3 linked regions of the Homo sapiens genome follow. The protein of the gene in region 2 purifies or fractionates together with the protein of the main gene of each other region. This does not show direct contact. Each region holds a gene or a part of one and is shown on either strand. Other genes may lie near its edges.

Region 1 (4,212 bases), on a different chromosome or scaffold from region 2:
CTTGGCTGTGTGGCCCAGGTTGTAGTACAGTTGCATAATCATGACTCAGTGTAACCTAGAACTCCAAGCTTCAAGTGTTCTCCTACCTCAGCCTCCTGAGCAGCTAGGACTACAGGTGCGTACCACACTGGAATATTTTTTTTTTTAATTTTTTGTAGAGACAGGGCCCTTTACTTATTAAAGTTAAATGTCATCCACCTCCAGAAATCTGAGTTCTATTTTTATCCTTCTTCCCCTGTGTCTCAAGTTTTCCATAAATCTCTACATGTGTTTTTTTGTTCCCATTCTCTCAGATTCCTTGGATTTTGATGTTTCTTCATTTCCAGGATGTCCTATTCCACTGGCTCTTAACAACCTAGACAGGTGTTCCCAAAACCAACAATCTACAGTTCCAATAACTGCTGTTGACCACCACTGTGTTGTTCAAATCCTCTTCTCAGTGAAAACTCAGGATCTGGCTTCTTCCCTTTCACTCTGTCTCCTCCCACCTCCCTTTTCTTTTTTCTTCACACTCTTTCCCTAAACCTCATTCCCTAAATTTCAACTACATTTTCTGGGTGAAATAATCTAAATCTGCATCTCTATAACCAATCTTTCTCAAGCATTAGTACCCATAATGACATTTCTTGCTGGACTCTTCTACCAAGACATGTCACCAGCTATTAAAACTTACCACACCTAAAATTAAGCTTCTGCATCTCACCTTCAAACCATTCCTCTTTTCATTGCCTCTCTTTTTCAGACTCATGCCTGTCTTGCCTAATCTACATTTGAGATGCCTCAAAGTTACCTTCTTTTTGAATTCCCACTGCCATCATCCTAATTATATATAAGAAATTAAAACTTAGCCTCTTCCTTTCTTCCTAATACATCCCACTACGATCAATCCTGCATGAAAGCCTAGGGTTTTAATCCACTTAATTTACTGGTCAACGGATCCCTACCAACAGCTCATCTGCAGCCTAATACGGCCTACGTGGAATTGTTAGTCATTTTTATTTAGTATTTTAAAAACTGTGATAAAAACACATACATAATATTTACTATCTTAACCATTCCTAAGTGTGTATTTCAGTAGTGTTAAGTATCCATTAGTCATATGTAAAAACGCAGTTCGCCAGCTCACAATAATGAGCAGATGAGAACTGCCTCATCACCCCCTGGCTGCTGCAGGTGGAGACTACTAATCCCTTTCGCTGTTAGGCCAGTCGCTGAGAACCAGAAAGTCACTGAAATGGAAGACCATGTTAATTGTACAATTTTCTTCAAGTTTAATGCCATTAAAATTTCATAAAATTAAAACCATGCAGGATCACTGAAAAAATAGATGAATAAAACTCCATATAAACTTCAGTCACACTCTACCTGTGTGCAAACACAGTCTTTTTTTTCTTCTTTTTTTTTTTTTTGAGACAGGGTCAAACTCTGTGGCCCAGATTGGAGTGCAGTGGCCTGATCTCGGCTCACTGCAATCATCTCGGCCCCCGGGCTCAGGTGATCCTCCCGCCTCAGCCTCTGGAGTAGTTGGGACCACAGGTGGCACCACCATGCCCAGGTAATTTTTTGTAGAGGAGGTTTTGCCATGCTGCCTAGGCTGGGTCTCTTTTCCTTCATAAAAATTCACATGGCTTGCCTAGGTAAGGATTTCTATTAAACTCTGGGGAAAATTTTTTAAAAAAAATATAGCATCTATAAACGCCAAACACCTTCACATGGCTCTAAATATGGTCTATAATTTGGTCCCAGATTATTTTTCTGGTCTCACTCCCTATTTTGTTAGTTAAACTCAACTATGCATAATTCTAGGATGGCCTGGATGTTGCTATCGGGTGGCTTTACTCAATGCCACGGTACAATGGTTTCAGAGCAGGTTTTGGGGCCAGACCCTCCGGGTTCAAACCCTGACTTCACCACTTATTACTACATGACACTGGGCAAGCTAATCTATGCCTCATTTGCCCATCTGCAAAATGGGTATACAGTAATATATATCAATTTGATAGGGTTGCTCTGGGAATTAAATGAGTTAATTCACGTAGTGCTTAAAATGCTGCTTCTACCACACACACAAACATGAGCTATTATTTTTCCTGCAACCTGAATGCCCTCTCCTTCCAGGTGCGCTCAATCCCATTTCCCTAATGACCCCATCAGAAATGACTTCCAGTCCCCCACAGCGCTCTGAGAGCATTTTACGACCCGAACAGATTTTGTCAAACTCCAAAGACACGTGCTCCCCTCGGCACCATCAGGTGAGTGCTCCTGACCGCGCCATTGGCTCGTGCCCCGACGCGGACGCTGCCTAGAGCAGCAGGTCCACACTCCCCCGAACCAGGCGCCGGCGGCCGCTAGTAACGCGTTGAGGCCAGCTCCCTCCTTAAAATGCGTACACATCTACTTCACATTTTCGCGCGGTGGCTGCGGGTCTAGGAAAGTCTTTCTGAACAGGAAAAAGCTGTACAAATGTAGCGGGCAGTAGGTAAACGGGCGCTCGCCCCGGGTTACACTAGGTTGGAGGCTCAGAGAAGGAAAAGGGATTAGAGGCGAGGCTCCGGGTCACGGGAAAAGGTCCTTGGCCTCCTGTCATGGATGGTGGCGCCCAAGGCCCAGGGTCGCCGTCTCTGCGCTCGTGCCTGCGGATACCTGCACCGCAGGACTCGGCGTCCGCCCCGATCACGCCTAGCCGTGCCGCAGCCGCAGGAAGGCTGACAACGTCCAGGCCTCTACCCGAACCCAGTCTTACCTACGGTGGCGGAGTGACCAGAAGAAGCGGGCCGAAGTAAAAGGCGGGGCTCAAGATGGCCGCCGGGGCCTCGCCTCAGCCCCGCCCATATGATGCCCCGCCCCTCCGGTCCCACTCACTCTCGCTTTTAACTCCGAGAACCCGCTCTTCTCCAGTTCAGTCTCCATGGCCCCGCCGCCTTTGCACATTGCACTTCCCGGCAGCCTCCGCGTGGGCGCCCCCTCCAACTCCTGCCTTCGCCCGCGTTTCTGCTCTGTGTGGTTACTAGGACCAACGAGGAGGGCGTTAGGTTAGTCCCTGTCACCTTGTCGGGGATCAGTCTGCTGTGCGTGCTCAGACTCTTCCCAGAGCCAGCAGCAAGAACCCGAGGCATTAATAAACTTGAGATGTAGCTTCGCTTAACTCGTGCAGAGGGTTTCCGTGTCACTTATGTAGAAACTAGGGCCTAATTTCAACTCCCTCAACTCCTCTGTCCCAAGACTATCCACGTCACCTACTTGGTAGCTTGAGTTAAACAAGAAACCTTTGAAATCTCCAGTGGCCGACACGCAGTGGGAACTCCATCAGTTTTCTGTTTTCTCCCTTCTTCCCTCAATAAAAATTAAGTTGAACTGACTAAGATTTGCTAGTTGATAATTTACAGCAAATCTTTCCTTTTGGTCTCTCTGATTTAAGCAAACTGTTGAGTGTACTTTGCCTCTTGAGAAATTAAATCTGATTACAACAGAGCTAAGTATTTTTCAGCAACGGTTAGACTGACATTGTAAATACACAATCTGATAGTTGGGGCTGGCCTCATGGGCCTGCAACCTGTGCTATTACCCGGCCCCCAGAACAGAAGGACGCTACATTTTCTCTCAGTAAGTGTTGAACCAGGGCCCCACGTTTGTGTCTGGAATTGGGCCCTGCAAATTGTGTAGCTATGGGAGCTGACTTAAGTATGGATGAGCTGCCACACAAGAGATTACCTGCCAGAATCTATTGTGTGGCTCAGGCCCATTTTGCCATAGTGATCTTTGGACTAAATTAACCTGTGGACTGAACCTGTGGATCAATTGGAACTTAGACTGAAAATAATGTTTCATCAAAATAATGTTTTTATTTTGAGAAAGCATTGAAGTAAATTGTTTTAAACTTTCTTTTTACTATCTTTAAGTATAAATCATTGAAAAGGGGATTTTCTTCAGTTTCAAAACTGAAACAGAATAAATACCTAAATTGCAAGTTCTTTATAACTGATGTTTGAACAAAGAGAAATAATTGATTAAATGATATATTTGCCTAATAAGTGGACTGCTGTGAGGTGCAGACTAGCCAAAGAACTGTAAGTGTGAAGTTCTTTACTAAAGGGTTCTTGTGTGAATACAATGTGAGAATAAGCAGAACTAAAATTTCTTTTACCCAGCATAAATAAAATGTTAATAGATCCACAAAAGTCGATTGCTTAAAAATATTAAGAATATATATAA
Region 2 (4,115 bases):
TCATGTGTAACAAAACACTGTTATTTTGATTTTTTAAATCCATTTACAAATGTAAAAATCACCCTTAGCCAGGCGCGGTGGCTCACGCCTGTAATCCCAGCTCTTTGGGAGGCCAAGACGGGTGGATCACGAAGTCAGGAGTTCGAGAACCAGCCTGGCCAACATGGTGAAACTCCGTCTCTACTAAAAATACAAAAATTAGCCGGGGGGTGGTGGCATGCGCCTGTAATCCCAGCTACTCAGGAGGCTGAAGCCGGAGAATTGCTTGAACCCGGGAGGCGGAGGTTGCAGTGAGCCAAGATCGTGCCACTACACGCCAGACTGGGTGACAGAGCAAGACTCCATCTCGAAAATAAAAATAAAAATAAATTAAAAAATAAAAAAAACCACTTAGCTCACTGGCTAAACAAAATCAGGTAATTGGCCTGTACCTGACAGTCAATTTCTGGTCACTAATGATGACCACATATCCAAATTACAGTAAAGGTACCCAAGAGAGACAAAGATTAGAGATTAGTGTTACGATCCCCGTTCTGCCAGCACTAGGAGACAAGAGTTGCTACAGCCCTTCCGCGGGTTTAAAAGGCGGTCGACGTCCCTCAACCTCTTGCTATGCCTGAAAACAACCGAGTAAAAGGCATCCAAAGACCTGAGAACGCAAGGTTTCAGGAAAACAATCAGGAAGGGCAAAACATGGGGCAGCCACTACACAGCCCCTCCGTCTTAGGGCACAGGTACTAAACGGGTTGTAAGAGACCCAAGTCACATCCTTCAGAAACGTGCTGGCGCGGGCCCAGGCAGACAGGGATTCCACCCCGGCGAAGGCCGCAAATGGCGCGAGGCGGGAAGGCGCAGGCTCCACCTTCCCCCGTCCCCAGATCACCTACAGTGACCTGCGCGTACAGGCAGGCTAGGACCGCGGGCGCTCAAGGCAGACATCAGGCCCGCCGACGTCTCCGCGCCGCCCGCCCGGCCACCCGGAGAGCCTGCTGCCCAGCGCCTGGCAGCGCGGACAACCTCTCTCGGGGAGGTGATGACGGTCCCTCGCGCCGGAGGGCCCAGGGAGGAAAGAGATAAGCAGAAAGACACCAGGGAAGAACACCACGCTTCGGACCAACGCCAGCCACAGCCACTGAGAAGTCGCCGCATCCGGCGGCGCCGACACACGTTTCCAGGGCTCTTGAGAGACCATACCCTGGGAGTCTCGCGGGATCTCACTTTTCTCGGCGGCGCAGGGAATGAGACAGATCGCGGGAATTCCACCCGCGCCGGGAGATGGTCTGGTGACTTCGCGGCTCCTCCCACGTCTCTCTGGGCAGTCCGCCTTGCGCATGCGCAGGCGGCGGTGGCAAGGCTACGGTTCGCGCCAGCGGCCGGCGCTATGGGGCTGAGCCGCGTGCGGGCGGTTTTCTTTGACTTGGACAACACTCTCATCGACACGGCCGGGGCGAGCAGGAGAGGCATGTTGGAGGTAACGTCCCCACCCATGGCGCTCCTCTGGGCGGGGTCAGTGCGCCCCGCCCCGTCCTGCACGCTCACCTCCCCTTGACCCCACTTCCACCCCGGCGCCGCGGGCCGCTCTTGCTGGTTGAAACCTGTGGAGCGTGCGGGTGCGGAGGTGGCTGGAGGCGCGCGGGCCCTGCGGGTCTGCTTTCCCTGGCCTGGCGGCCGCTTGTCACCCAATCTCGAGCCCTGGAGCGGCTGCTCGCAGGTGCCTTGGCGCTCGGGACGCGGAAGGGCTCCGTGACGGCTGCCACGGTGGCGGAGGTGCCCGTGGGCGCGGGAGGCGACAGCAAAGCCGCGAGACCAGGCGCTGGTCCCGCCCCCGGTCAGACTGTCGGTGTGGAGCTCGACAGAGGGTCGTGTCCCCCATGCGACTTTCGGGGTTGCTGGGAGGAGACATGGTAGAGTTAGCCCCAGTGTTGACCCAAGAAGGGACACGGCTGTCAGTACCGAGCCTGGACTTAAGCCCTGCTTTAGAGAATTGTCGCCGCAGAACTTCTTCTGGCCTCCCTGGCGGGGTGGTGGTCACCGTGGCTTTCTGACACGTGACACAGCAAAAGCCCGTGCTGCGAGGGCATGCCCTTCCTGAGGCGCTCCTCCGCGGCACTGCCCCTCTACACGCGCGGAGGCGCTTTCAGACCTTCCCGTGTTCCAGCCCCAGTCCACCCCGGCTTCCCTTTCTCTACCTTCAGCTTCAAGGGGAAAGGGAAGGATTTATCAGATGTGGAAAACTCACTTTCAAAAGCTAATTCATCCAAACCTGAGCGCCCCGTCCTCTTCATGCTTCATCAGTTAGTTTTTGTGTCCCTGGATCTTCCACTACCTCATCCGTTTTCTTTTTAGCTGCATTCCACTCCTGCCGCATATTCATGTTTGCCCTATAGTTTTAAAAAAGCTGTAAAAAGGATGCCTCCCTTTGGGCTATTCTTCCTGCTGTAGATGTTGCCTGTCTCTCTTGACAGCCATGTTTTCCCGGAGAAATCTATACCCGTTATCTCCTTGTCTCTACCTCCTATTTATTACTAAATCCATCGTAATGTCGCTTTATCTTCACCGCTAGACTGAAATAGACTTGCTGGATCACTAGGCATTCCCAAAATGCCGGAATCAGTAGACATTTTTAAAGTCTGTCTTCATGACTTTACTGAGGCATTCCACACTTTTAACTTGTTGGCCTCCACCTCAGGGGTGCCACCCTGTGCCATATTGCCTCCAGTATCTCTCGCTGCAGATGTTACATATTTACCTGTGTGTTATTAGTAAGCTGAGTCCTGTGCATTTCAATTAAATTATTGCTTTAGGCCAATTCTTGCTGTAGGCCCAGAGTTTGGGCTTTAAAATCAGACATTTGAATATGAATCACAGCTCTCCCAAAACCTAGCTGAAAGTGCCTCAAGGAATTAACCACTCGGAGCCTTATATCTTCATAAAATGTGAATTATATTAGTCCTCAATAACCCTGTAATACTTGGGAAGCCCATGGTTGCAGTGTCCACTCAGCGAACTATAGCACCTTCCACCCTCGTACGCTGTCTGTCCACCACTGCACATGCCCCGTGCATGTCTCAGTTACAGCTGAACTCATCTCTCACCTAGACTGTTGCTGTGGGCTTGTCTCCAGGTTTACCACATCCAGTGTGTCCTCCACATTCTTGCCACAGCAATATTTTTAAAACAAAGACTAAATCGTATGCCTCCCTGGTCTTTACACCCTCACTTATAGTAGTGCTGTATTTTGTTCAGATATTTCTTAATGCATCTGTCAAAGGATATTTCAATTAATTTTGCAACTCAGGTGCCTACTACTAAATAGTGAGCTTCTTGGGAGGGAACAAGCTGTCTTAATTATCCTCGTTTGACACATGGCAAATGTTGAATAAATGCTGGATGGATGGATACAAATTTTTACTTCGAGACTTGGTTCTATTACTGCCTCCTTTATAATTACAAATCATTGTAAATAATTTATGAATGGGCCGGGCGCGGTGGCTCACGCCTGTAATCCCAGTACTTTGGGAGACCGAGATGGGCAGATCACGAGGTCAGCAGATGGAGACCATCCTGGCTAACACGGTGAAACCCCGTCTCTACTAAAAATACAAAAATTAGCCGGGTGTGTTGGCGGGCGCCTGTAGTCCCAGCTACTGGGGAGGCTGAGCCAGGAGAATGGCGTGAACCCGGGAGGCGGAGCTTGCAGTGAGCCGAGATCGCGCCACTGCACTCCAGCCTGGGCGACAGAGCCAGACTCCGTCTCAAAAAATAATAATAATTTATGAATGGAGGAAGAGGGAAAGGTCCAGCCATTTATGGCCTTGGGCTTGGGGAGAAGAGGTCATATACTGACTGTATGTATCAACTTTAATTTTTTCTAATCACCTAGGGAAGTTATTTTTTTTCTCCCTCTTTAGACCTGTTTTTCATGGTAATTACTCAAGAGGAACTTTTCTACAGAAGCCTGGAGTTTCTCAGTGAACAAAGCAGAAGAGATTTCTGCATTTGTGAATTTACTTCTTAGTGGGTATGGCAGTGAACATAATAAATATTTACAGGTGTGATAGAAAAAGCAGAGAGGGTAACAAATCAACATTTTAAATAGACTGGTCAGATTTGGC
Region 3 (3,500 bases), on a different chromosome or scaffold from region 2:
CCTTAAAACGTTAACATAGAACATAACTGACTGGATTTTTTTCTAATATTGAATGCCAAGTACTACACAAGCAGAAGAATATCAATCTACATTTCTATTCGTTCAATCAGTAGTTTCATGGACATATATAAGTATCCACCACATTTCTGGAATTACAAAAGCACCATGGAGACCAAGATGAAGAAGATCCAATTCCCAATTCCTGAGTTCAAAGCACTCACGGTCTAGTTAGGGAAATCTACAAGCCAACAGAAACTCATAAAACAGTGCTAACCAGGAAGCTGTCTCTGGCACTTCAGTGCCACTGGAACAACAGCAGCAACAAATCCTTCCCTTACTAAAGTAATGGAAAGTATTTTCAAGAAAATTAAGATAAAGATTAAGGAGGTGGTGGTGGGTTAGGGGGAATCACCAATATGCAATTCGAAGCAGAACACTCCAAAGAAATGCAAGCACAGGGATGCCACCATGAACAGAGCTGAGGAGGCAGCAGAGGCTTGAAGACTTCATGTTTTGAGTTATTTCACCTCGAGTGACTTGCCGATCACCCTCTTTGAACTCCACTCCCACCACTAAGCCACTGCTTCATATTCAAAGGTCTTTTTTAGAAGTACCATCTAATAACACCTTTCCTTAAGTCCATTATCAATAATGACAAAGGCAACTGAACAGTAAATAAGATTTTAAATAGAAAAGAATAATTTGCTAAGTAAATAGATAATTTAAAATGGAAAAGAGAATGAACCAAGCAACTTTCAAACTGCTTAGCTAAAATTCCAAAACATCTAATTTTGAGTCTTAATTCAACCATTCTGACATCGGCAGCGCCACATACCTGGTCCAGCGTCTCTCCTCCGGGCGGTGTAAACACAGGGCACTCTTCCCTGGCTGCTTTGGCCATGGCCCTCAGCTCACTTAGCGCTTTGCCTTCTACAACCCCGTATTTCTGAAACAGTCCAATAGATAACAGTTTCTCAAATGAAATTGCAATATAACAATTAAGTTTATGTTTATGGCAAATTTAGAACATTCATCCCAGGAATAAGCTAACTCTCCTCCACTTAATTGATTCTATCTCCTCTGAACTGATAATGAGAATGTACTCAGTAGAGGGCCATGAACCTTAGAAAATATAATTGAAATCTTAAGTTGTACACTATGTCCAAATGGGTTATTTTAGAAGAACTTGCTATTGCAAGCAGATGGTGGGAATTTATTGAACAAATACAGAGATTTGCACAGATTATAGGACTAGAGATTAACATGCACAAGGTACCAATTCAGCCATCTCCCATCCACACATACTACACCATTTGATCCCAATGACAGCACCATGAAATAGCTAAATAAATATATCACCATAGTTATAAGGAAGTTGAGTTTCAGAGACGCTAACATGAGAGATCTATTTCTTTTTTTTTCTTTTTTTTTTTTTTGAGACGGAATCTCGCTCTGTCACCCAGGCTGGGGTGCCGTGGCGCGATCTCAGCTCACTGCAACCTCCGCCTCCTGGGTTCAAACGATTCTCTTGCCTCAGCCTCCCGAGTAGCTGGGACTACAGGCGCGTGCCACCACACCCGGCTAATTTTTTGTATTTTTAGTAGAGATGGTGTTTTACCATGTTAGCCAGAATGGTCTCAATCTCCTGAACTCAAGTGATCTGCCCACCTTGGCCTCCCAAAGTGCTGGGATTACAAGCGTAAGCCACCACGCCAGCCACATGGCAACATTGTTAAGCTATTAAATTGGAAAATCACAGAGTCTAATAATACCAATTGTTGGTGTAAAAAAACAAAACTTTCTCCTAGGTCATTCATGGGACTATAAATTGGCACAGGTTTTCTGGAAGGCAACTTGGCAATATGTATATAAATGCCTTTAAAAAAGTACACACTCGCCGATGTCCATTTCTAGAAATATATAGGTCTACAATAAATTAACTACAAAGATGTTTATTTTGACATTATTTACATCAGTGGTAGTCTAGTGAAAATCTAGCTTTCCATCAGCGTAGCTAGGTTACATAAATTATGCAATATCCATATTTTTCACCTTTACTTTAAACTCTTCTATACTGTGTTAAGTTCTTATGAGCGTACCTTCTTTTATACCTTAAGATGCTTGTCTCGTTTGATTTTAATAATAAGATCCTATATACGAGGGTATGTAACAGTGACTGTCATATGGTAGATTCTTAAATATTTTCACTGATTCGAAATCCCTAGCAGAAATGCATTTAACTTTTAGCCAAGTGACAAACTGAGGTGGCTTACTGATAATTTATGGGGAAGAACAATATGTAAATAAGTTACTCACCCTTTCCCGAAGTCTTGAGTCATACTTTACCGTCATATCTTTGCAAAATTTGCTTCTCTCCAAAATTCCATGCATGGTCTGAAAATCAAGACAATTGTTTCTTTCTTTATAAAAATAATCACCATTCTGGTGGAAGCACTGAAAGAATCTATGTCATCTTAGTGAATAAAAAAGAACTAGAACCAGGCACGGTGGCTCACACCTGTAATCCCAGCACTTTGGGAGGCTGAGGCGGGTGGATCATGAGGTCAGGAGATCGAGACCATCCTGGCCAACATGGTGAAACCCTATCTCTACTAAAAATACAAAAAATTAGCCGGATGTGGTGGCACGCACCTGTAGTTCCAGCTACTCGGGAGGCTGAGGCAGAAGAATTGCTTGAACCTGGGAGGCGGAGGTTGCAGTGAGCTGAGATTGCGCCACTGCACTCCAGCCTGGGTGACAGAATGAGACTCCATCTCAAAAAAAAAAAACAAAACTAGAAATGATTTTCCTTTGCAAAAGTTGCCTCTCTGTGTACATCTGTGTACACATCTGTGTCTCTTCATTCCTGATTTTGATATTCTCTTCTAACCTATCTTTTAGTTCAGAAGTCAGCACAATCCAGACCATCATCTGCTTTTGCAAATAAAGTATTTTACTGGGACACAGCCACAGCATTCATTCATGCACAGTTGATGGCTGCTTTCTTGCTATTACCGCAGACTTGAACAGGTGTTAACAGAGACTGTATAGACTATAAACCCTAAAAAAAAATTACTATCTGGCTCTTTACAGAAAATGTTTACTAATCCCCATTCTAATTCCTTAATTCGCCATTCAAATGTGTCTAAATTGTTGTTAAACCCATCCATTGAGCCTTAATTCCAATTGTATTTTTAGTTCTAGAATTTGCATTTGGCTCTTTTTTACAGTTTATTACAGTTCTGTACTGAAATTCTACATCTTTCACCTATACAAAAATATAGTTATTTTAAAGCTCATGTCTGGTAACTCCATCGGGTAAGTCATGTGGCTGTTTCTGTTGTCTTTAGCTCATTTTTATTCACATTTCCTTCTCTCATTGTAAGTCTAGCAATTTTTGATTGACAAGCGACCCTGTCACATAGAAATAATTTAGGTCCATGATCTGCCTTTTTTAAAAACACATTTCCCAACAAATTAGACATCATCATCATACTGTT

What was found.
Region 1: the proteins of NANP (region 2) and ESD fractionate together in Homo sapiens (co-fractionation; one large-scale study listed by BioGRID). This does not show direct contact.
Region 3: the proteins of NANP (region 2) and TIGAR fractionate together in Homo sapiens (co-fractionation; one large-scale study listed by BioGRID). This does not show direct contact.

Annotation. Positions count from the first base shown.
Region 1 is NC_000013.11:46,794,362-46,798,573, forward strand, and holds the start of ESD (S-formylglutathione hydrolase), read right to left. Parts: upstream 2,801-4,212; 5' UTR 2,744-2,800; intron 1-2,743.
Region 2 is NC_000020.11:25,621,215-25,625,329, reverse strand, and holds the start of NANP (N-acylneuraminate-9-phosphatase), read left to right. Parts: upstream 1-1,315; 5' UTR 1,316-1,381; coding exon 1,382-1,471; intron 1,472-4,115. UniProt on the Homo sapiens protein: Catalyzes the dephosphorylation of N-acylneuraminate 9-phosphate (Neu5Ac-9-P) to N-acetylneuraminic acid (Neu5Ac or sialic acid). Can also use N-glycoloylneuraminate 9-phosphate as substrate.
Region 3 is NC_000012.12:4,348,713-4,352,212, reverse strand, and holds part of TIGAR (fructose-2,6-bisphosphatase TIGAR), read right to left. Parts: intron 2,395-3,500; coding exon 2,317-2,394; intron 947-2,316; coding exon 836-946; intron 1-835.